5 separate regions of the Homo sapiens genome follow, and regions 2, 3, 4 and 5 are each reported to be linked to region 1. The links are microRNA targets in miRTarBase. Many come from high-throughput screens and were not tested one by one. Region 1 holds a microRNA gene; each other region holds the end of a gene's coding sequence.

Region 1 (5,105 bases):
AAACCATTCTTGTATTACCTCTCGCACTATTCCCCCTGTTCTCCATGCTTCGCATTCTCTGTTCTATCCCCAGCTATAGCACTGTCCCCATAAAGCCTACTGTGGTTCTCGGCTCATGGTGTCCTTCCTCCCATCTGCCTCCCGACGTCATGCCTGTCTTCCAGTGTTTATGCCTTCTCCAGGAAGCTTTCTCTTGTGGCCCTCGCTGTGAGCTATAGCTCCTCCCTTTCAACATCTTCTAGCACCTCCTCTTACTGTGCAGGTGAGGACACTGAGGCTTAAGGGTTAAGTCACTTGCTCAAGGTCACATACAGTCGGTCCTCTGTATCCGCGGGTTCCTCATCAGTGGATTCAACCAACTACAGACAGAAAATACAGTATTTGAGGGATGCTGAACTCTTTGAATTAGTGGGTTCTGCGGGTGCTTAAGCATCCATGGATTTTGTTATCCTCGGCAAAGGCGGGGGTCCTGAAACCAATCCCCTTGGATACTGAAGGAAAGACCACCCTTAGTGATAGGAACCTAGGAACCCAAGTTCCCTCATTTCCAAATCGTGTTCCCTGACCCACTTATTTACTAACTAGTGGTGAAGCCATCTTCCTGCCAGTATATTTTAACTTCACAATGGGATGTGAGGGCCAGGATGCACATGCTTTTTAAATCTCCCTCTGTGCTTGACATACAGTAGATTGAAAGTAAGTGCTGGTAGATACACTGGCCAAGCTGTGCTCTTCTCTGAAGTCAGTATTCCAGGAGTAACTCACCCTGGTCATCTCTGTGCCCTGGGCACACTGGGCACTCCCCACACACAGGTTGAACCTGGCAAATAAGACTCACAGCATCATGCCACGTGCGAGTTAAAGCCACCTGGAGGTCAGGTCAGGTCTTCCTGACAACTGAGTGCTTCAAATAACACAACAGCAGCTAAGTTCCCCACATCACCTTGAGTGTCTGGAGAGCTAGGCCTATGACTTCTCTGTCTCAGGATCCCTCTCAGTGCCCAGAAAACAGTGGACATCAATAAATGTAACACCAATAACATCTTCGTTGAGCGCTATGCTAAGCACATCAGGTATGTTAACTCATTTATTCCCCAGTGTCCATCTCTCAGTGTTTTATACATACGGGAACTGAGGCTCAATTAGCCGAGCGTGGTGTCGTGCTCCTGTAATCCCAGCTATTGGGAGGCACAAGAATCACTCGAACCCAGGAGATGGAGGTTGCAGTGAGCCGAGATTGTGCCACAGCACTGCAACAGAGTAAGACTCCGTCTTAAAAAAACAAAAAAACAGAAAACAAAACAAACAAACACTGAGGCTCAGGGAGGTTAAGTCACCTGCCCAAGTTCATGAGACCAAGGAGCCGGGAAGCAGGAAGGGGAAGGCAGGAGTGTAACTCTGAAACCTCTGCTCTTAGGCACTGGCTTTCAGCTGAACTGATACCTCTGGAAAACAGTCTCAAAAAAGTCCACTTCTCCTCCCAACAATTCAGACCTAAAAACCATTTGGCGGGGAAGGGCAGGGCAAGCTTCTGAGTTGGGGAGGGGGTGTGGGATCCCAAGCTGAGGTGTCTGTTGGCAAGCAGGGTGCAAAGGGCATCTGTGCAGGGAGGGGGCTGCAAGGGAGACAGAGACTGCTCACAGGCAAGGAATGAAATATTAAACATTAATGTTAATATTAATATTTATAATTAATATATTTATGATATATAGCATATATACATATTATATTAATTAATTATAACTATATTAATATAATTAATTATAACTATATTAATATAATCAATTATAACTATATTAATATAATCGATTATAACTATATTAATATAATCGATTATAACTATATTAATATAATCGATTATAACTATATTAATATAATCGATTATATTAATATTAATATAATCAATATTAACAAATATATACTATATAATATAAATAATACCTAAGTTTATATAATATGCATAATGTTAATATTTATTAATATTTCAGGGACAATGGGAGTCATGAATATGGAGAGACAAAACTAGAATGAACCCCAAGGTGCTGCATCAGAATTGAAGGTACCAGTCTGAACTCATAGTTTTCAACCTATTGAAATAAATATAGATGCACGTGTGTGTGTATGCACGTACATACAAATGTTCCCTAATTCTGCCCATTGAGAGGCCTGTGGTTAGCAACACCCCAACAGCAATAAGCAGACCTAGCTTGGCTCCTAAATTTCATTTTCCACTAAAAGGAACCAGAGCCCCTTGGATAAAGGACTGATTCCACAGGTGGGTAGGGAGCATCTGTTGCCAGAAAGCAAGAAAGCACTTAAAGAATGATGTGGACATGTCAAAGGGACACAGAAGCCAGCCTGGATGAGATCCCACTGGCCCTAACTGTCCACAAGGACAATTTGAGCAAGGATGTCAACAATTTAAGAGCAGATTATAAACCACTGAATAAAACAGAAAAATACAAAGAATTGAAACGGACATTGATGGCAGACAGGATATTAACATAATTTTAAAGTATCTCTCCAAGGAATGCTTCTGAATGATGAAGGGGAAAAGAATAACTGTACAGTGGAAAAGCCTGGTAAAACCCACCTTAGTGACCAAAGTGAATGTCACCATAGTGGGACAAAAGGAAATCAAGTGCCACCTTATGGGATTCAACGAGGACGCAGCATCCCTTGGGTGATGTTCCAGCCAAATACACGTGCCCGGTGGAATCACACAAGAACATCAGACACACTCACACTGAGGGACACTCTGCAAACTGACAGTACTGGGCACAAACATGTCCAGGTCATGGTCGACCGCAGTGGCTCATGCCTGTAATCCCAGCATTTTGGGAGGCTGAGGTGGGCGGATCACTTGAGGTCAGGGGTTCGAGACCAGCCTGGCCAACATGGCAACACCCTATTCTCTACTAAAAATACAAAAATTAGCCGAGCGTGGTGGAGCATGCCCGTAATCCCAGCTACTTGGGGCGCTAAGGCACAAGAATCGCTTGAACCCGGGAGGTGGAGGTTGCAGCGAGCTGAGATATCACCGCTGCACTCCAGCTTGGGCGACAGAGTGAGTTTCCAACTCAAAAAATAAAAAAATAAAATAAAATCCAGGCCACAAGAGTCAAAGAAAGACTGAGGAAGGTTCCAGACTGCAGGAGAGCCAAGAGACAGGATAACTAGATGCAATGGGCAGTCCTGAATTGGATCTTTTGTTATGAAGGACAACGCTGGGACATATGGTGACTCTTGAATGGGGTTAGAGGACTAGACGGTGGGAATGCATCAGAGTCAGTGTCCCGCGTGGATGGCTGTGTTGCGGTTCTGTGGGAGAATGCCCTGGTCTGTATTCCAAGGGTAATGGAGTAGCAGGTTGACAAATTACTTTCAAATGGTTCAAAAAAGAAAGTTCTTTTCACTGTACTTGCAATTCTTATGTAAGCTGGAAATTATCTCAAAATTAACGAGAATTTTTTATCGACGTAGTATTTTACATATTTATGGAAAACATGTAAGTATTTGTTACATGCATAAACTGTGTAATGACCAAGTCAGAGTATCTGGGGTATCCATGACCTTGAGTATTAATCATTTGTATGTGTTGGGAGCATTACAAGTTTTCGAGTTACCAATTTTTTTTTTTTTCCTTTGAGACAGGGTCTTACTCTGTCGCCCAGGCTGGAGTGCAGTGGGACGACCACGGCTCACGCAGCACAGCCTCCACCTCCCAGGCTCAAGCGATCCTTCCACCTCAACCACCCAAGTAGCTGGGACTACAGGTGTGTGCTGCCACCCCCAGCTAATTTTTTAATTTTTTTGTAGAGACAGGGTCTCACTATGCTGCCAGGGCTGGTACTGAACTCCTAGGCTCAAGAGATCCTCCCACCTCGGTCTCCCAAAGTGCTGGGATCATAGGCATGAGCCACCATACCCAGCCAAATTTTTTAAAGTTATTTTTTAAATCTCCACTTAATTCGATTTTGGTAAAACACGACCTGTAATTTTTCTTTATCGGTAGGTAATAAAAGCTTCAGATGATTTTACTGATCACTGGTATGGGCATATTTCATGACTTTGCCCTTTCATCTCTTGCATAGTTTTACCCTCACCAAGCAAGACCTTCCCTGCCTCAGCACTGTTTGCCCTCTTCGTGTTTTCCAGAACAGAAGTGGCCCTGTTTCGTGCCCAGAGCAGAAGAGAACGATGAAGAGCTCTGCTCTCCCAGGTCTTCCTGGTCTGTGTGTGTCCAGGTTTTGAGGGCCTCTCACATACACGGCTCTGGACCACGTAAGATCTAATTTTAGCATTTTCCTGCTCGGAGACCACATGTTTGGAACAGCAGGGGCTGACCTGCCCGTGCAGGCCTCCTATTGTGAAGGGCACGCGAAGCCAGGATACCGCAGCCCTGCAGGATGTGACTCAGCATCCTGTCTCAGTGCTGGGGCGGCCAGCAGCTCTGGCACCAAGTGCTGCTGCTGACCTCACCTCTTAAGACCACAAATACCCAGGGTAATTGGTGGGATAGGCATGCAGCATCAGCTCTCCCTGTTAAGACAACTTGCTTGTCCATCCATTATGCTGGGCTTCCTTGTGAACACCACAGGTATCTATCAGGAAGAGTTCTTCCGAGGAACTGATCTGCTGGTATTTTCAGGACACCAAGAATCAAGAGATTGGTCTTGTTTCTCTCTTTGCTTTGACTACCAGGAAACTCAAAGTCAGATCTGTGGCCAAATTCTGGTAACCATACCAATGCTATGTCATGTATTACATGTACAAACCTTCCCCTTACTTCATCTTATTTTCTTCTGCTTTCTTCGTGTCCCGATTTTCTCACTAATGTTACATTCTATTGTTCTCTATGAATGTTGTAAGGTGTTTCAAATCCTTTTTGGAGGGCACTACTGTAGATACAACACACATTACCCCTGAGGGATAAGGACTCTTTTTGACTCCACACAGAATCCCTGGCATTTGGCAAAGAACCCATATTTAGGCACTAAATACACATGGGCTGAATGGAAAAAGCCAATAGCTAAGTAAAAACCACCTCCATTACCATATTGTTTCACAAGAGGTTCTTTTCCCTTCCATCTCATGAGGTGGGG
Region 2 (5,105 bases), not on the chromosome of region 1:
AATGAAGTCTATATAATGGTTGCAGACACGGTAAGTTGAACAAAAAACATACAAATTAGGGATTAATTTACTGGGTTCTTAATAAAATTGCTGAAATTATTATCAATTAGCCCTCAAAAATGTTTTAGGATTATGTAATTTCCATTTTATCTACATAATTCTCTAAGAGTTTTATAAAATGGTTGCTACAACTTGTATTGTGATCACACTGAGACACCAATAAATCTCTGCCAAGAGATCAGTAAGTCTGATATTTGATAAAATTAATCCAGTAGGTTTTAATAACATAGTTATTTCACTTGGAGGAAGCACCACAAAAAGAATGATTCCAGCAATTGTAGTCAGATAGGTGAAGCAAATGGGGGAAGTAAGCAATGTTAATACAAAGTATTAACTGTGGCAGCTCACATAATGCACCAGCTTTCATCAAAGCAGGCTGTTGCATAATTTATCTATGTCCTATTACATTGAGATTTTTATTCCAACAAATATTTAATATACTTTATTTACTATAAGTGACTGAAATGCAAATTCATCTGAACTATAAAGTAACTACCACAAAATAAAAGAGCCTGTAAACATATCCCACATTATTGTGGTATAAACAATTTTTATGAATTCAAAATTACTTTGGCAACCTTACCATCAGAGTATTTTAAATGTTCAAAATACAGATATTAAATAGCACATTGTTATAAACTAATGTTTCCTTCTCTCTTCCTGATATTATAAAACAAGTAATGCTTTATTTACTTATCTTACATGTTCACATTATGAACACAAATTATTTCATTATAAATGGACATATATTCTAAATCTTAGTTCTATGTTTTGAGTGCTTTTAAAAAATTAGTCTTCTAACTGCAGTCTATAATGTTTTCATACTGCATGTGTTATCAGTCTAAATACTTTACAAAAGCTTATGTTCTGTCAGGCAGGCATGACTAGCAAACTGAGTGGGGGTCCTAATTAGAATCACTTCTTAAGCCTGCTTATTTTCTAACTTAAGTGACATCCTTTAAGGTTGTCATAGTTATTAAGTGAAAACATTGGCTGAGTATGCTTCTCTACTGGAAATAGACAAAAATTCACAAGAATTTATGATATTCACATAGGTTATAATTTATTGAAGTTCCAGTATAATATAGGAATACTAGATAGATAATTAGAAAGCAGATCATATAAGACCAGACTGCTAAATCAATAACCATTGCTGAACCCTATTTCCTAATGCCGATAAAAATGGGCTAAGTGAAGACTGGATAACATTTTTCAAGTTCCTTTCAGCTCTCAAGCTGCAGTACTTCTAGTGGAGATAGAAGACAGGAGACTTTTCCTTAAATACTCTAGACCTGATCAGACCCTGCCAGCAGATGATAACCCAGAAGTTAAAATAATCATTTTCCTCTGTGGGCATTAGCCTTTGTGAAATATACATATAAATAAACACACAAAAGTAGCTCTATGTGTGTGTACACATATTTGAAACCTTCCAGCAATTGTCTTAATGTCTTAACATACCTTTGCACAACTGAAGTCAGATTTCATGTAATAAATGTTCCCTTTACTCTTGATTAAAATCATCAACCACTCCCCTCTCACCTCTTTCTCCTAGCAGACTGTAGAAAGGAAATCATTTCTTAGGCTGTTTACTCTGCCTCTATTTTGAATGGATGCATTGGTTTAACAAATACTATCAATTTTCTGGTGAATGTAAAGTCTATTCCAAATACTCCTCATCATATTTACATGGTGCTGACACAAATCAGATGCTCAATAAAACACCTGAAATGAACAGGAAAAAACAATCCTAACTCAGAAAGGGAAGGTTTTCACAAACACTTCTTAGCATTTACAAAATCCACTTGATTAACCACTATTGATTTCCACTTGTCAGAATAAAAGTCAGCATTGCTTTCTTAAGGGTGTCAAGGTGGGAGGTAGGGGTGGCTGGAAGAGTGGGAGCGTAGCTTAGATACAAGACATTTGGCATTTTATCACACAATGTTACACTGATATGGACGGAGTCTAGAACTACATGGTGTATGAAAGCTAGGATTATTTCTAGAAACCTATTTAGATTGATATACAGGTTAAAAAGTTCTTAGATGTAATGGATAAAGTCTTATCTATTAGCATATTCATTTTAAGAAGTTGTAAAGGATAATTTAAATTTAAATAAGATCCCAATAAATATGGTTTTCAAAAAGGATCTTTTCTGCACATAAAAATGACGACAGTGGGTAGTTCCCAGATGAAAAATTCATATATGAGAAATTTAAATGTAATTCTAAACTTCTAATGATTGGCATTTAAAGACAGGCATTGATGATTTAAAAAGGCAGCAGTGCTCATTGCCAAGAAATTATTAAACTCACAAGTATAAACAAGGCCCTAAATTAAAGAACATGCCAACCATGACTTTTGTCTCTTTACATCTATACAATGATATCTTTTGGTCTATGGTTGTCATATTCTGTCCATACAGATAGAACAGACAAATTTTATTTTTAAATTCAGGTGAAAAACTGCCAAAACAGTCATTTAATGTGTAGACCCCGACATAATTTTACTTTCTCAGTTTTTAATTTATCATGTCATATAGCAGCCTAAATTATATTTGTCTGTTTATAGAACAGAATGACCAAATAAGATTATAAGTTACTTCACTATCTTATACTGTTTTGACTGTGAAGTCAGGAAATAGATTAAGAGAATTTCTCTTTGACATAAGTTTATGTTTACTTCTCTCTTTAAATAAACTTAAATATTTTAATATGATAATTTATTTGGTATCTTGGCTATTAATGTTTAGGAGCTTGATTTCCTGAAATTTATTATTATGAGTTTTGAATGTCTGAAATGACATCGTTTAGATTATACCAAAGATTTAAAATGTGTACTCTTCCCCTCATACTAAATGGCTTTCCAAAATATCTGCCATTTGACTCTAAACTTTATCAAGATCTTACAGAAATATTCAGAAACTGCTAGGAAATGAATCTTTTAAAACCCCAATCCACATAAAATAATTGTGTAAAATAACATTTGTATAGGTGAGCAAATTTTCACTTTTATCAAACTGGGCAATGTTAAGGTTCTATCTCTCTGTAGACTTAAAAACAAAAAAACCTGAAGAGGAAAATACGGGAATTCCCACATCCTTAATGGGAATCAGATCCTCCATTAGGCTGGACAGTCAAAAGTCTCCTTATTAACATGCTTATAACTTAATAAGTATATATAAAATGGAATAATTTAATTGTACACAAAAAAACAAGAAAATTCTCAATTTAGTTATTGAGTTATTACACTTAGAAATAAGTCAATAATGTTTCATTCTTCGTTTGAAGAATCCCAATCAATATATCAGTGTGAACAAAGCTTGATATTAACTGAAATGAGTGCTAAAGAATAATATTTTAGTTATGGACATGAATAAATCACAATTATTTGCTCTAACTTTAGCTTAGATTATCAATATGTTTAACATTAATCTGCATGTTAGATGTCTTCCTAAAGTTAGGGATGAAATAAATATGAAATTTGAAGCATAAAAGCATCTTTTAAAGTTGAGCTGCTAAACCGTAACCCCTCAGTCCCTCAAGTAAAGGAATGTGCAGATTTTGAACAATTCCATAGCAGCAGTGTGCACTCAGTAGAACACAAATTATCTTTGCTTCTTATAGCAAATCACGAGTACTGAGTAAGAAACAGAATTTCCTTACCCTTCTTTGACTGTATAACACTCAATATAGCTGTTTTTTAAAATGTGAACTTATTCAAAATGCATAAAAATATACGAATGTACAATATACATATATACCTCCTAGTGGGGTCAAATGAGTGCCTTTTCGTTAGACATACAAGGACGTCTCAAGGCACTTAAGGGGTTAAGACACAATGCATGCATTCCTTTACATCAAGTATGTGAAATCACATGATTTGGAATAAGCCAACCTTATGATAAATATAAGTTACATTATTAAATCCAAGAGAATTTGTAGATTCATATTTATATTTTCTATAAGATGCTGGTAAATGGACAATGTGCAGCATTTCCTGGGAACAGCAAATTCCATCTTTCTTCTTCTGAGCAGCAGGCAGGTCTCTACAGGGGGTGTGCAGGGAAAAATGTGCTGCATCCATAGGCAGTGTATTGGCTAATATTAAGAACGATATTGCTAAAATTTTAAAAATAAAATCTGGTAATCAGTATAGTAAGTACGCAAACCACTGCAAAAGACCAGAGCTGACTCCTGATGTTTACTTCTTTTTGCTTTCATGATACAGGTGTATAACAGAGATGATGAGAATTTTGAGCCTTGTTTGTGGCAATTCTACCAAAAGGGGATTGCATGGCACCACCACAAAATTTCATAAATTACCCTGAACATACTCAGTTATTTACTATTTGTTCGGAGCAAAGCATGAAACAGTCTTCAAATACATGAGTTATAGATTTTGAAAGAGTGACATTTTTTAAAACATAAAGTGCAACAGTGCTGAAGTTTTCAAAGTTTTTTTGAGTTCTTCATTTTTTTTTTGTAAAATGCCATTTCCTGCGAGCAGCATTATGGCACAGTGAACATAAGGGAAAGCAGTTTTCCAACACATATCCCAGATCTTTTTGCTTTCTTATTTATTTGTTGATGTTGTTAAGGGTTTAACAAAGCCTTCTTCATAAACTTTCAAAATAGCTTCACATACAAATCTGTATTGACTCTGAAAAATAAAATATAAAAAACAGAACTGATCAGAAAAGTCAGAAAACCGTCCCCTCTCCCCCCAAAAAAGACAAACATCTCACTTGGCTTGCTTACTTAAAAAATGCAAAACAAAACTGCATAAAGATACCATTTTTCACTAACAGTCTAGACTGGTTAAAAAATACAGTTTGGCAATATATTTTGTTGGCAAAACTCACTTATATGTTGCTGGTAGGGATGTTAAAATACTGCAGCCTCTATAAAGGGGAATTTGGCAGCATATAAGAAAATTAACCTAATTTACCTCTTCACCCAGCAATCCCACTTCTAAGAATCTATCCAAAAAATAAACCAGAAAAAGAAACTGAAAACACATATTCACAAACAAGGCTATTC
Region 3 (5,105 bases), not on the chromosome of region 1:
AAGCGAGCTATTAGGGCTGGACATGCACTCAGTGACGCAGCTGTCCCTCCACCCTGGCCCGGGTCAGGTTCTGCCAACTCCACACGCACACTCTTCGTTTGAAGGGTCCCAATGGGTTTGAGGACCTGTAAGACTGGTACGCACGGCGGACCCCATGAACACCCAGAACAACAGTGAGTAGAGTTTATGATACGTTGTAACTAGAATGACCCCAAATATCTTTATTTACTTGGCATTGTACTTCCCAAAGAAGAATATTGCAGCCACTGGGCCTCCCTTCAGAGTGCAGAGAGGCAGCTCCAGGAGCTGAGCCTGCTGGGATGCAACTCCTCCTCCTAGCACCATGGACTCCTTCATCTTTCAGTCAAGGCTGCCAGTGGCTACCACGTGGCCCTCCCATTCCTGGAGCTCTCAGCTGCATCCGCCACCTGCTCTCTCGACGGACTTTTTTTTTTTTGAGATGGAGTCTCACTCTGTCGCCCAGGCTGGAGTGCAGTGGCACGATCTTGGCTCACTACAACCTCCGCCTCCCAGGTTCAAGCAATTCTCCTGCCTCAGACTCCTGAGAAGCTGGGATTACAGGCGGCAGCTACCATGCCCTGCTAATCTTGGTGGACTTTACACTGGACACATGTGTGCTGAGCGCTAACACAAAGGCCAGGCAAGTGTCCCCTGGAGACAGAGGGGTGGAAGGCTAGGTCACAGGCATGGCTGTCAACGGACCCTGCTGTGCACCCATTCTGGCCGCGAAGTAGCTTCATGCATTCTCTGCCCAAGATAAATGCAGAGAAAACTCGGCTCTACAGGCTCACAGGGAGTGACGGCTGCTGGCCCCAGGAAGGAAGATGCTCCTTACGGGACACCTGCTGTGAGCCCCTTCTGTCACCCCACCCCCGCCTGGGTGGTGAGGAGGCCAACAGGGCAAGATGCAGAGCCTCCCGGCCCCTCACACCCCCATGGGCTCCTCACCACCATTCTCTCCCCAGGCCTTTTCTGTGGACCTGACCTTCTTCAGCGACCCAGGAGGCAGGAAGGGAAGCCTGAGTGTTAGAAGGAAAGACAACTAAGAGCAGCAGCCTGACCGCAGCTGAGCACGGTCGTGCTCCTCCCTGGGGAAGTGCCAAGGGAGGGACCCCCTGCTCTACCCGGAGCCCTGGAGCCCTGCTAAGCAGGGTGGAAAGCCTGCAGCCCGGGGGGTACCGCGACTGTGGCCCAACCATCCAGTGTGTGAGCCCTGGATGATGAGGCCACCAAGAGCAAGGCAGCCCGCTTGGACAACTGACCATCATCTGACGAGGCAGCGCATCACCCACGTCTCTGCTGTTCACATTTAATCCTGCACAAGAGCGTCACAAAGTGACAGCATTGTGAGGGACTAACGACCAGGCACAGGTGACCCTGGACGCGGCCAGTGGCTTCCTGCAGGGCGCTCAAAACCCAAGTCCTTATGATCCGCCGCATCTACTGCCGAGACACCAGCTGCTCCGTCCCCACCTGTGCTCAAGCACCTGAAGGCCCTTCCAACGGCGCCCGCTGGGCAGGGGACAAACCAGACACGAAACACACATGCGCTTTTACCAGCCTGGACTCTGTAAGAGAAAGGCACCCCCATATCCCCCCTGGGGAGATTTCCACTTATCCTGCAGGGCCCTCACTGCCTCACCGGGCTCTGCCAGGGCCTGCCCCGCAGGGGCAAGTGCTTTTCCTACACAGGGTCTGTGGGCCAGGACAGACCCAGAGGAGCTTCTGCTACGGGCTGAATGGTCACTCTGAAATTCCCATGTGGAAGCCCTAGGCCCGACGTGATGGTATGAGGAGGTCTCTGGGAGGTGATTTGGCTTCGATGGGGTGATAGGGGTCATGGGATCCGGGCCCTCACAAGGAAAAGGTGACACCAAAGCCCCTCCTGACATGAGGATGCCTCTGAACCAGGAGGCGCTCGCCGGAAACGGACCCTGTTGGCACCTCTACCTCGGACTTCCAGCCTGCAGAGCTGGAGAGAATAAACCTGTGTTGTCTGTGGGGCTGCCGGTGGTGTCCTGGTAAGGCAGCCCTGTGACTCCATGACCGACAGCTGCTCTCTACAATCTTCCGTGAGCACGAAGAAACTCATACTCATGCTGCAAATAAAAGATTTGGGGAACTTTTAAGCACACCAACCTCCCGGCTTCAACAGCTGTCAACATTCAGCCAATACTGTTGTGTCTTTCTCCTCTTTATTAGAATCGTAAAGTACATCCCAGGCGCCACGTCATTTCCCCACAAAGACGTCCAAATGCATCTGAGTGAGGATTCCTCCGTAACCCTGTGTCACCATCACCGCTAGCAGCCAATTCCGCACCCCCACCCGACTCACGGCCCACCCACCCGACTCACGGCCCACCCACGCAACTCACGGCCCACCACGCAACTCACGGCCACCCACCCGACTCACAGCCCACCCACCCGACTCACGGCCACCCACACGACTCAGTCCATCCACCCGACTCACGGCCCACCCACCCGACTCAGTCCATCCACCCGACTCACGGCCCACCCACCCGACTCAGTCCATCCACCCGACTCACGGCCCACCCACCCGACTCAGTCCATCCACCCGACTCACGGCCCACCCACCCGACTCAGTCCATCCACCCGACTCACGGCCCACCCACCCGACTCAGTCCATCCACCCGACTCACGGCCCACCCACCCGACTCAGTCCATCCACCCGACTCACGGCCCACCCACCCGACTCAGTCCATCCACCCGACTCACGGCCTACCCACCCGACTCACGGCCCGTGCCCACATTTCCATGATTGTCTCAAAAGTGACTTCGCACTCGGTTTGCTCCTACCAGGGTCACACACAGCCCCCTCGGCCTTTCTGCGTGCCCGTCTTCCCACAGAAACGTCGCCGTCTGGTGGCATCTCCAGCCGGATCTGGCTCAGGGCTTCCTCTCGGTGTGTTCAACCTTCTCCTCATCCCCCTATTTCTTGTAAACTCGTTTCTGATTCCAACATTACATATGCATCTGTTGGCTGGAATTTTTTTTTTGAGACGGAGTTTCACTCTTACTGCCCAGGCTGGAGTGCAATGGCGCAACCTTGGCTCACCACAACCTCCACCTCCCGGATTCAAACGATTCTCCTGCCTCAGCCTCCCGAGTAGCTGGGATTTCAGGCGTGAGCCACCACGCCTGGCCTGGCTGCAATTCTTAAAGAAAAACAGGCAAAAGCAAAAATAATTGGCTAACCTGAAACACGGCAGTGTCCCGACCCATTCCCACGGGGGTCTTCCCTTGGGAACACCACTGGCAGATTTTTATTTCTGGCTGGATAAGCAGACACCTTAAGTTTAAAACAAAGAGGTCACCTCTTCCCCCACGAAATGCGATGTGGTGGATATGGCCACCTCACTGCCCTGAGACCCAACTTGATCTCCCAACTCCAGGTGCATGACCCAGGCTCTGACCAACAGAGCTGGGTGGAGGCCGTTCCTGCAGCACTGGGGGTGGCCCTGACCTAACCACCACTCCTAATCCTTGAATGAGGTTCAGTATTACAAAGGCTCTTGTTTCTACGGCCCAGCGCAGAGGCTGCAGGAGGGTCTTTGCCTCTGTGCAATGCTCACAGCTGCCTCGCCCAAGACAGAGACAAGAAGGGAAGCCAGACCGGGCAGCCAGCATGGGGTGCAGAGCCAGGAAGGAAAGGCCCAGCAGACGGCGACTCGGGGCCAGGGTGGAGTCCCTGAGCCAGACGGCTGTGGGCACCAGGCAGGCTTCTCCGCCTCTGAGCCCGGCCTGGCACGTGGCTCCGGGGTCGCGCACACTCTCAGCACATCCCCAGGATGCCCGGCGCCGGGGCGCAGCCCCCGCCATCTCCAGAGCCCCCGCCATCTCCGGCGTACCCATGGCTCTGCTTCTCCCACCTGGCAGTTTTCCCAGTAAACTTCTCGGGGGACTGGGGAGCTCTGAGGACTAAGAAGGCTTCTCTGAATTCAGGTTGATTTTCCAGGCTGAAGAGCAACTTCTCACTGCAGCTCTCCCTCAGGACCCAGTACTCCCGCAGAGGCGCAGCACCCCACTCTTCGGGCGCCCCTACACCTCCCCGTGCCTGTGAGTCCTCTGATGCCGCGTGAAGAACCCCAGGTGACGGAAGCCTTTCCCACAGTGGCCGCACTCGTAGAACCTCTTCGTCAGGTGCAGCCTCCGGTGGATGCTGAAGCCCTTGGGCCACCGGAAGGACTTGCCGCACTCGGCACAGGTGTAGGGCTTCTCCCCGCTGTGGACCCTCTGGTGGTGGCTGAGGTTCTCCTTGGTCCGGAAGGCTTTGCCGCAGTCCGCGCAGTAGAACGGCCGCTCCCCGGTGTGCACCAGCTGGTGTCTGAGAAGGTTGGACTTCTGCTTGAAGGCTTTCCCACAGTCGCCACACGAGTAGGGCCTGTGCTCGGTGTGGACCTTGCGGTGCTGAGCCAGGCGGTCCTTCAGGCTGAACGCCTGCCCGCAGGCCTCGCAGCAGAAGGGCTTCTCGCGCGTGTGGTTCTTCTGGTGGCGCTGCAGGTTTGAAGCCCACCGGAAGGTCTGGCCGCACTCGGGGCACTCGAAGGCCTTGGTTCCCGTGTGCACCGTCTGGTGAGCGAGCAGCCGGCTGTGGCAGCTGAGCGCCTTCCCGCACGTGCCGCAGATGAATGACAGCTCTACTGCGCGCTGCTTCCGGCGCTCTCTGCGGCCCGGCCGCCGCCCACAACGCTGCGTGAGCACCTGACACGGGAAAGCCGTGGGCTTGGCGTCTGTCCTTTCTGGAGCAGCTCTGGGAAGCTGCCCGTCATCCGTGTCCAGCCTGAAGCCCTTCCTAAAGCTGCTTCCTTCCCTGGCTCTTTCTCGCCGCACGTGGGTTTTCTTGTGAGCCCAAGCTGGATGATCACAAGGTCTCTTGGGGTCTGCAGACTTCCTTGCCCCTGTGGAAGGAACAGACACCCTTACACAGAGCCAGTGGCCCACAGCCAGGCAGTGCCTCCAGCAAAGCCCAGAGGAGGCCGGGCGCGGTGGCTCACGCCTGTAATCCCAGCACTTTGGGAGGCCGAGGCGGGTGGATCATGAGGTCAGGAGATCGAGACCATCCT
Region 4 (5,105 bases), not on the chromosome of region 1:
GGTGGAGTCGGCCGCCAGAACTCACCCCGAATCCCACGTGCTGGTCCTGATGAAAGGGCTTCCGGGTGGCAACGCCTCTCTGCCCCGGCACCTGGGCATCTCACTTCTGAGCTGCTTCCCGAATGTCCAGATGCTCCCGCTGGACCTGCGGGAGCTGTTCCGGGACACACCCCTGGCCGACTGGTACGCGGCCGTGCAGGGGCGCTGGGAGCCCTACCTGCTGCCCGTGCTCTCCGACGCCTCCAGGATCGCACTCATGTGGAAGTTCGGCGGCATCTACCTGGACACGGACTTCATTGTTCTCAAGAACCTGCGGAACCTGACCAACGTGCTGGGCACCCAGTCCCGCTACGTCCTCAACGGCGCGTTCCTGGCCTTCGAGCGCCGGCACGAGTTCATGGCGCTGTGCATGCGGGACTTCGTGGACCACTACAACGGCTGGATCTGGGGTCACCAGGGCCCGCAGCTGCTCACGCGGGTCTTCAAGAAGTGGTGTTCCATCCGCAGCCTGGCCGAGAGCCGCGCCTGCCGCGGCGTCACCACCCTGCCCCCTGAGGCCTTCTACCCCATCCCCTGGCAGGACTGGAAGAAGTACTTTGAGGACATCAACCCCGAGGAGCTGCCGCGGCTGCTCAGTGCCACCTATGCTGTCCACGTGTGGAACAAGAAGAGCCAGGGCACGCGGTTCGAGGCCACGTCCAGGGCACTGCTGGCCCAGCTGCATGCCCGCTACTGCCCCACGACGCACGAGGCCATGAAAATGTACTTGTGAGGGGCCCGCCAGGTCACCTCCCCAACCTGCTCCTGATGGGGCACTGGGCCGCCCTTCCCGGGGAGGCAAGATTGAGGGCCCGGGAGAGGGAGGCCCGAGCTGCCACCGGGCTTAGGCAGGCTGTTGAGGAGCTGTGGGAGCAGGCCCAGTGGGAGGCTGTGGACACCCCGAGGACAGTGTCCTGTCTCGAGGCAGGGCTGACACATGGTGCCATAGCCAGCGGAGGGCGCTCAGTGAGTGCCCCGGGCCTTCTAGACAACAGGCAGGAAGGATGAACCTCAGGGCACCCCCAGGTGGTGCGGAAAGCCAGGCAGTTGGGACAGAGGTGCCCACGAGGGCAGAGGCCGGTGCTAAGGGGATGGGGAAGAAGGGACAAGATTCCCAGAGAGGAGAGGAGGCTGTTGGTAGGAAAGTGGCAGGGCTGGGGGAGACCCAGCCCCAAGGGTCCGGGGCGGAGGATGCTTTGTTCTTTTCTGGTTTTGGTTCCTCTTTCGCGGGGGGTGGGGGAGGTCAACAGGGACTGAGTGGGGCAGAGGCCCAGAAGTGCCAGCCTGGGGAGCCGTTTGGGGGCAGCCCCTTCTGCCCACCCCATCCTTCTTCCTCTCCAGAGATGCCAGGGGGGCGTGTATGCTCTGCCCCTTCCCTCAGACAGGGGCTGGGTGGGGAGGCTCTTTAGGCTCAGGAGAAGCATTTTAAAGAAACCCCCACCCTGCCGCCCGCATTATAAACACAGGAGAATAATCAATAGAATAAAAGTGACCGACTGTCACTTCGGGCCTTGTGATTGGTGAAGTGTGTTCAGGCTCACAGCCTCCTCCGCTCCATTCTTCTGACGGGGAATCCACTGGGTGGACTGGTGGTGACTTTGCCAAGGTCTCACAACCTGCCCAGCACGGAAGGGCTCGGGACCTGGCTCATAGCCCCAGTGTCCCTGGTGATGGAGAGCCCCCGCAGTGGGGAATGGGGGGAGCCTGTTTTTCCCTCCTCCTTTTTCAAGGCTCACAAACACGGAAGGTTGGGTCCCACCAGCACAACTCCCCCCATGACAAGCCTGAATCTGTTTAACATAAATGGGACCAAATGTGGACACTGAGGAGCCCACCGCCGGAGCAGGGCTGAGCTGCCACCCATCCAGGGAGAGGTCCCAGTGAGGGAGCTGTGAGGGCCTGTGGCTGAAATCCCGGGAGGGACCTGAAGTGCCTTGTGGGCGGCTCCAGGACTGGGCCATAGGAATATCTGCTCCCCGCAGGGCGAGACCCCAGCTGGTTTGCATTGTGGAAGCTGCCTAGGCGTTCCCCACCAGGACTGGGGGTGCTGCCAGGAACACTGGGGCCCAGCAGGCTGCTTTTTGGCAGCTGAAGGGGGAGGCATTCATTGGCCTCCGTTTTCTGCCCACAGACCGTCTTGAGCAGCGTGGGAAGGAGGTGAGCTCCCTGGCTCTTAGGAGTATTCAAGAGCAGGTTATGTGTCGTTTTCTTGGGTTTCTTTCTTTCTTTTTTTGAGACAGAGTCTCGCTCTGTCACCCAAGCTGTAGTACAGTGGCCCCATCTCGGCTCACTGCAACCTCTGTCTCCCGGGTTCAAGCGATTCTGACCTCAGGTAAGCCACTGCACCTGGCCCAGGTTTTGTTTTTGATGAATACAAAGGATTGTTAAGTCAGTGATTTCTCCAGCCACAGCAGCATTTCAAATGAGCAGGTTTTACTTAAATAATACAAATCATATCCTAACTATATATGTATGTGAACAAGTGAGATGACCTTTTAGAGTCCAGCATTGTTTAGTCATTTGACCATCATACAGTGAGTGCCTACTCGGTGCCAGCATGAGGTCAGGAGTTCAAGACCAGCCTGGCCAACATGGTGAAACCCCGTCTCTACTAAAAATACAAAAATTAGCCAGGTGTGGTGGTGGGCACCTGTAATCCCAGCTACTCGGGAGGCTGAGGCAGGAGAATTGTTTGAACCTGGGAAGCAGGGGTTGTGGTGAGCCGAGATCGCACCACTGTGCTCCAGCCTGGCTGACAAAAGCGAGACTCCGTCTCAAAAAAAAAAAAAAAAAAGGCCGGGCACGGTGGCTCATGCCTGTAATCTCAGCACTTCGGGAGGCTGAGGCAGGCAGATCATAAGGTCAGGAGTTCAAGACCAGCCTGGCCAATATGGTGAAACTCCATCTCTACTAAAAATACAAAAACTAGCTGTGCATGACTTGGGGCGCCTATAGTCCCAGCTACTCGGGAGGCAGAGGCAGAATTGCTTGAACCCGGGAGGCGGAGTTTGCAGTGAGCCAAGATCGCACCACTGCGCTCCAGCCTGGGTGACAGACTGAGATTTCATCTCAAAAAAAAAAAAGGAAATTATGAAATTATGTGCATAAATGTCTGCTTAGGGCAGAGAGGTGGGTAGGAAGTGCCAGTTCCCAGGGAGGATGCTGTTGACTCCTTATCCACGGCCATTCTCCTCCCGCTTCTTTCTTGCTAAGGAAACCCCAAGTTTGTTCAACCCTCAGGTAGCTTAGGGCTGTAGAGGAAGTGGGCCCTCCCTAGGCCTGGGGGTGAATCTCTTTTGGTCTAAGCCAGTCCTAGTCATTCCAGTCCCTTCCTAGTAATTTGAGTGGAAATGGGCATATAATGCTATTCTGGCCAATGAGAGGGCAAGTCAGCTGGAAAAGAGGGCTCTGAGAAAATGTTCATAGACAAGAAAGCAACATTTCTGCATTTGGCAAAAGGGTGTAATGCTCCAAGCAATGGCAGCCATCTTGAGGCCGTGAGGGGACAAGTCTGAGATCAAATGTCACCATACTGCATCCTTGAAGACATGAAGACCTCAGCGAGCTGCTGAATTAACCAACCCTGAAAGCGCCCTATCCCGACTCCTTGTCTCGTGTGTTAGATGCTATTTACCATCCTCAAGTGTCCATTCTTCTTGTGGTCCTTAGAAAAAGAACACAGCGAGTTCTAGGCAGACATAGCACCTCCCCTTGGCAGCTGGCTGTGGCCATGTGACTAAGTCCAGGCCAATGGGATGTGAACAGGAGTGATGCGGGCAACTCATGGATGATCTTAAAGACATTTGCTTTGGGCACTCTAACCCGCTTCCCACTGGCTGGAGCATGGCAGCAGCTGGAGTGCTTTGCAGGGCACATTTTGGGGGTGGCAGAGTGGCCCCAGTGGCCTTGGAGCACTCACCTTGGGACTGTAATGTGAGACAGAAACAATCTTCTTTTTTTTTTTTTGAGACAGAGTTTGACTGTTGTTGCCCAGGCTGGAATGCAATGGCGCGATCTCGGCTCACCGCAACCTCCACCTCCCGGGATCAAGCAATTCTCCTGCCTCAGCCTCCCGAGTAGCTGGGATTACAGGTGTGCGTCACTACACCCAGCTAATTTTGTATTTTTAGTAGAGACAGAGTTTCTCCATGTTGGTCAGTCAGGCTGGTCTCAAACTCCCAACCTCAGGTGATCAGCCCGCCTCGGCCTCCCAAAGTTCTGGGATTATAGGCATGAGCCACCGTGCCTGGCCTAATTTTTGTATTTTTAGTAGAGACAGGATTTCACTGTGTTGGCCAGGCTGGTCTCGAACTCCTGACCTCAGGTGATCTGCCCACCTTGGCCTCCCAAAGTGCTGGGATTACAGGCATGAGCCACCGTGCCTGGCCTGGTCTCGTTTCTCTCCTTGGAAGTTGGTGGGGACCGGGGCTGGGTTCTGATTTTTGGCAGTGGACTAAAGCTGGGAGGAATGTCTCACGTCTCACCTCCCCTTGGTTTCCTGCTGCTGCTGCTGCTGCTGCCGCCACACCCACCCTGGAAGGGGATGCTCCTCCTCCCCCAACCCCACCGCAGCACAGATCACACCTGAGTCCAGGGCCTGAAGCCTGGTCCCACCCTGACCCCCAACCTCACAGCAGAATTCCGAGCACGCCTTGCACTGGGCTAGTCCAAGTTAGAACAAGCAGAGATTTAGGAACAAGTGAACCATGAAACCAGACTTCCAGGAACACGGGGGCTCACTCATCCCCGATCTCTGTTGGGCACTCAGAGGACATTACAATTTAATATTTAAACAAGAAGTTGAATATTGATACACCAGCAAGGGGGAATTATTTTCCTTCCCCTAGAGCTGCTGGGAAAACGACTCCCTGCTTGCCTATGCCTGGCCAGCTGGGAAGATTCTTAAATAACCGACTGGACACCGGCCCCAGGCCACGCAGTGCTCCCCCAGTAAAGGATAGGTCCACGTCTTTCTCAGTCCTGGCCAAAAACGTCTGTGAACACACCCACTAGAAACAAGCCAGGAACAAACCGCTGCTCTGAGGATCTGATTACATTTCCCCAGG
Region 5 (5,105 bases), not on the chromosome of region 1:
ACTTGGATATGTGGCTACTTTTTGTTTGGAATTTTCAGAAATGTTTAACAACATAGAGAATAGCAATTTGTTTATATTTATAATTATTTTACTACAAAGTTTATATAAAATTGCAATATTTATTTTGGTATTTTAAAGATGATTTTCATTTTTAACTTAATTGCTTGAGACTAGAATATCATTTTTTAGATTTTTTTTTTTTTTGAGATGGAGTCTTGCTCTGTTGCCCAGGCTGGAGTGCAGTGGCGCGATCTCAGCTCACTGCAGCCTCTGCCTCCTGGGTTCCAGCGATTTTCCTGCCTCAGTCTCCTGAGTAGCTGGGATTACAGGCACATGCCACCATGCCCGGCTAATTTTTTGTATTTTTAGTACAGACGGGGTTTCACCATGTTGGTCAGGCTGGTCTTGAACTCCTGACCTCGTGATCTACCCACCTTGGCCTCCTAAAGTGCTGGGATTACAGGCGTGAGCCACCGCGCCTGGCCCATTTTTGAGATTTTAATGTCCAGCTTTTATTATAGAAATTGATGTATGAAGGTAAAAACCCTGGAGAGTTGTTAGTACTAACAAATGTTTAGTAACAAATGGTAGTAAGGAAGAATCTAAGAGATAGTCTTTGGTTAGACCAGAAGTAACCAAGAGAAAGCCATCAGGAGAGCCCATTATACAACGGAGGTCTGCTATCTCTAATAGCATTAGAATGTGCTAAACAGTAAAGTATGCTTTTTCTCTTTTGGTCCAGGGTGGTAAATCTCGTGAAAAGGTGGTGAAGCTTTTGGCTTCTACAACTCCAGAAGAGATCTTGGAGAAATTAAAAAAGGAAGCCAAAAAAACATAAAAGCAAGAAATGAGGCCGGGCGCAGTGGCTCATGCCTGTAATCCCAGCACTTTGGGAGGCCGTGGTGGGCGGATCACCTGAGGTCAGGAGTTCGAGACCAGCCTGACCAACATGGTGAAACCCCATCTCTACGAAAAATACAAAATTAGCCAGATGTGATGGCGCATGCCTGTAATCCCAGTTACTCAGGAGGCTGAGGCAGGAGAATCACTTGAACCTGGGGGGCGGAGGTTGCAGTAAGCCGAGATCGCGCCGTTGCACTCCAGCCTGGGCAACAAGAGTGAAACTCTCTCCCCCCGAAAAAAAAGAAATAAAAAATACATCCTTGAGAAACTTTTTTATTGCTAATGGTGAAGAGGCTGTTAAATAGAAAAATATACTACATGCACAGAAGAACATGGGGGACATATATATATGTATATATTCGAATAAGACTCCAAAAAGTAGAAATTTAAAAAGTGCTATACATTGCATCAGGTTCTAAAATCCCAAACCCCAAACAGCCTGGAACATGTTACTCTGATTTCATGGCGTTGTAAAATAACAGAGCTGGGAAGAATATTCAAGATGACCTGATTTAACACCTTTCATTCTGTTGGGGGGCCTTTGATTTCCTATATCCAGAAGTTGAGAGACTTACTCAAGATTGTACCATGCAAGCTGGCAACTAGAACCCAAATCCTTGGACTACTTGTTGAATGCAGTTTTTCTAGATTGTAAATTAAAAATCATATCTCCACAACGGTTCTGGAATTCTGGGGATTGCCTTCTAATCCAGTTTACAAGTGACAGAAAACCTGTTATGCTGCTTTGTAGTCTTACCTTAGATTTTTAAATGCTTATTTAAATGTAAAAAAAATTTTTTTTTTACATCTTTTAAAGACTATATTTACCATTTTGTTGAAAAAGTAAAGAAAAATCATGACTTGTAATTAAATGTGAATTATAATTTTTGAGAAGTCACTGAATTTTCATCTTCCTCTAATAACTTAAATAATCAGCAAATTCAGTAGTTTTTATGAATCTCCAAAGATCCTTAAAAGAAGAAAGAGGACTTGGAAGCTATTTTCAGTATTTGTAAAAGCTTGTCAGAAATTACATCTATATTAAAGTTTCAAAAGCTAATAATATATTTTTACATCTTCAGGTCAAGTTATAGTAATTTATTAAAGAAAATAAAATTAATTTCCTTTGCTGATCAGGAGAGCTGATCTGCAGTTGTGCGCTTTGTCCAGCAAGTACATGAGAAAGATGTATTGATGGACCAAATCATTAAAAACAAAATCCACAAGGAAGAACAATAATAAAAATTGCTGATGGTAGCTGGGCTTGGTGGCTCACGCCTGTAATCCCAGCGCTTTGGAAGGTTGAGGCAGGAGGAACACTTGAGCCCAGGAGTTTGAGACCAGCCTGGGCAACGAAGTGAGACCCTGTATCTGTCTCTGTCTCTTTCTTTATAGATAGATAGATATACATAGATAGATTTTATACATAGATATATATATTTATATGTAAGATTATATATAAGACCTCATATATAAGAAGTCCAGGCCGGGTGTGGTGGCTCATGCCTGTAATCCCAGCACTTTGGGAGGTCGAGGCGGGTGGATCACCTGAGGTTAGGAGTTTGAGACCAGCCCGGCCAACATAGTAAAACCCCATCTCTACTAAAAATATAAAAACTAGCCAGGCATGGTGGTGGGTGCCTGTAATCTCAGCTACTCGGGAGGCTGAGGCAGGAGAATTGCTTGAACCCAGGAGACGGAAGTTGCAGTGAGCCCACACGGTGCCACTGCACTCCAGCCTCGGCGACAAGAGTGAGACTCCGTCTCAAAAAGAAAGAAAAAATCCCAGACAGTGAAAGAGAAGCTACTCGTCTAGTACAACTCTTAACTTGTACCAAATAGGTATCAAGGGCAAGAAAAGGTGGCTTATGTGAGATCACAGTGCACATTAATGGCAGAGCTTGGTTTAAGCCCAGCTGCTTTGTCTTCTAAACTGTGCCATATACTGCCTGCAAATGTGCTTCTGTTTTACATGGTCTTAAGAGCTTTTCCCACTCTTTCTCAAGACCATTGCCATGTGTGCTGTAAAGCCGTTTTACTTGTGGATTTTACATGGATCACTGTTAGAATGTCATAAAATGATATCATAAAAGATCAACTTTCCTGGCCGGGCATGGTAGCTCACACCTGTAATCCCAGCACTTTGGGAGGCCAAGGCAGGTGGATCACCTGAGGTCGGGAATTCGAGACCAGCCTGACCAACATGGAGAAACCCCATCTCTACTAAAAATACAAAAAATTAGCTGGGCGTGGTGGCACATGCCTGTAATTGCAGCTACTCGGGAGGCTGAGGTAGGAGAATCGCTTGAACCCGGGAGTTGGAGGTTGCGGTGAGCTGAGATCGTGCCATTGCACTCTAGCCTGGGCAAAAGGAGCGAAACTCCATCTCAAAAAAAAAAAAAAAAAAAAAGGATCAACTTTTGGTCAGGCGTGTTGGCTTACGCCTGTAATTCCAGCGCTTTGGGAGGCCGAGGCAGGCAGATCACGAGGTCAGGAGTTCAAGATCACCCTGGCCAACATGGTGAAACCCCGTCTCTACTAAAAATACAAAAGTTACCTGGGCATAGTGGCAGATGCTTGTAATCCCAGCTACTCGGGAGGCTGAGGCAGGAGAATTGCTTGTGAACCGGGACCCTGGAGGCAGAGGTTGCAGTGAGCCAAGATCGCACAACTGCGAACTGCGCTCCAGCGTGGGCTGCAGAGGCAGACTCCGTCTCAAGAAAAAAAAAAATCAGCTTTCTTTCCTTCCCCTGAATCTTCTGCAGTGCCAGTTTCATCCTCAGGCCCACTTGTTTCATGTAGACAAAAGGCCAACCAGGTTTCATATTCACGTATCAACCCCTGCAGTAGGAGAAAAGGCCACTCCTAGGAGCTCTGGTATTTTCCAGAAGCTTTCAGTCAGCCTTCCCTTGTATCAGCCCAAATCAAGTCACATGAAATTTCTAAGCCAGCCCCTGTGATCAGGGAATGCCATTCTATAACACAAGTTCCCTAAAGCAGTAACTATAGAAGAAAGAATTACCCTAATTGTTTCAGGCCAATTAAGGCCCATCCTAGAGGTGGAAATGGGGTCAGCATACTCAGAAGCAAAGAAGTAGAGAGAGTTGGATACCTGAATAAAATTGGGAAAAGTTACAAAGAGAGGAATGGATGCTGGAGAGGAACCACCAGTTTCTACTACGATAACCTATTTACTTCATTTTAAACGGTGATATTTTAAACGTGGGAACATTTTGCCTAGTGAGTTTTTTTCTTTGAGAAACGTAGCAGTATCTTGTAACAAAGAAGATATGGGGACACTCTGTCATCAAAAACTACTTTGGGGCCGGGCATGGTGGCTCACACCTGTAATCCCAGCACTTTGGGAGGCCAAGGTGGGTGGATCACCTGAGGTCAGGAGTTCAAGACCAGCCTGGCCACCATGGTGAAACCCCACCTCTACTAAAAATTACAAAAATTAGCTGGGCGTGGTGGTACATGACTGTAATCTCAGCTACTTGGGAGGCTGAAGCAGGAGAATTGCTTGAACCCGGGAATCAGAAGCTGCAGTGAGCCGGGATCACACCACTGCACTCCAGCCTGGGTGACAGAGCAAGGCTCTGTCTCAATAACAACAACAAAAAAACAGAAACAAACAAAACAAAACAAACTACTGTTGGAGGTAGGAACTGGCCCAGGGGCTGTATTCCCAGAACACGATTCCCTTTTCCCCACTGCAAACAAGATAGTCTACAGCAGCCTCACAACTTAATTGTCTCACACAGGACTATTCCTACTGTTAAGAGATCACAGCTAAGGCTTGGGCACCTTGACCTGCTGTAGAAGCTCAGTTAATGTACTTTTCATCATCTGGGCCCTGGTATTCCCCTGTAAATACTGAAGTAGACCCAGTGACCTAGTGCCCAAGACACAAAATATTCAGCCTCCGTAACATTTGTCTAATGACATGGTTCTAGCTTTGCTCACTCCCATTAATTTCAAGTGAGTACTGGCTAGGCAGTCTATAGTGACTTGATTACACTGTCTTTCTTGTCCTGTGCTGTCCTGAGAATCCTGGATTTGAAGCAGCCTATGAATAAGGTTTGAAAAATATTTATCCAACTATGCCGACATATGATGTTCTAGCACTGCATCTGTCATCTATCACCCGCACCTTAATAAATGATAATTACTTGTGCAAACATGATGTATTAATCACTTAT

Evidence for each region. Region 1 holds the annotated microRNA hsa-miR-619-5p (GCUGGGAUUACAGGCAUGAGCC, at 2,813-2,834, opposite strand). A microRNA usually pairs through its seed, bases 2 to 8, with sites in the 3' UTR of a target mRNA and lowers its output. Matches are read on the target gene's strand: a 7mer-m8 pairs with bases 2 to 8, a 7mer-A1 pairs with bases 2 to 7 and ends in A, and an 8mer does both.
Region 2: the mRNA of PTPN4 is a reported target of hsa-miR-619-5p. The part of its 3' UTR that is shown has no 7-base or 8-base seed match.
Region 3: the mRNA of ZNF707 is a reported target of hsa-miR-619-5p. The part of its 3' UTR that is shown has no 7-base or 8-base seed match.
Region 4: the mRNA of A4GALT is a reported target of hsa-miR-619-5p. Seed matches in the 3' UTR shown: 7mer-A1 at 1,152-1,158.
Region 5: miRTarBase lists C15orf40 as a target of hsa-miR-619-5p. Seed matches in the 3' UTR shown: 7mer-m8 at 879-885, 7mer-m8 at 1,013-1,019, 7mer-m8 at 2,187-2,193, 7mer-m8 at 2,415-2,421, 8mer at 2,686-2,693, 7mer-m8 at 3,036-3,042 and 3 more.

What each region holds. Positions count from the first base shown.
Region 1 is chr12:108,834,150-108,839,254 of GRCh38, forward strand. It overlaps MIR619 (microRNA 619), which reads right to left and starts at 2,857; the gene lies at 2,759-2,857. The region is part of intron 2 of SSH1 (slingshot protein phosphatase 1); the gene reads right to left. RefSeq lists enhancers at 3,713-4,912, 4,217-4,346, 4,906-5,105.
Region 2 is chr2:119,976,604-119,981,708 of GRCh38, reverse strand. PTPN4 (protein tyrosine phosphatase non-receptor type 4) reads right to left here. Exons shown (of 27, transcript NM_002830.4): 27 at 1-4,725. The coding sequence ends at 4,639. Among named protein-coding and RNA genes, the nearest start is that of EPB41L5, 34 kb to the left of the region's middle.
Region 3 is chr8:143,693,506-143,698,610 of GRCh38, reverse strand. ZNF707 (zinc finger protein 707) reads right to left here. Exons shown (of 6, transcript NM_001100598.2): 6 at 3,226-4,940. The coding sequence ends at 4,081. It overlaps LINC02878 (long intergenic non-protein coding RNA 2878), which reads right to left and starts at 1,496. Exons shown (of 2, transcript NR_015445.1): 1 at 970-1,496; 2 at 198-672.
Region 4 is chr22:42,688,557-42,693,661 of GRCh38, reverse strand. It overlaps A4GALT (alpha 1,4-galactosyltransferase (P1PK blood group)), which reads left to right. Exons shown (of 3, transcript NM_017436.7): 3 at 1-1,541. The coding sequence ends at 772. Among named protein-coding and RNA genes, the nearest start is that of A4GALT, 30 kb to the left of the region's middle. RefSeq lists enhancers at 84-605, 4,918-5,105.
Region 5 is chr15:83,001,330-83,006,434 of GRCh38, reverse strand. It overlaps C15orf40 (chromosome 15 open reading frame 40), which reads left to right. Exons shown (of 4, transcript NM_144597.3): 4 at 743-5,105. The coding sequence ends at 838. Among named protein-coding and RNA genes, the nearest start is that of C15orf40, 7.8 kb to the left of the region's middle.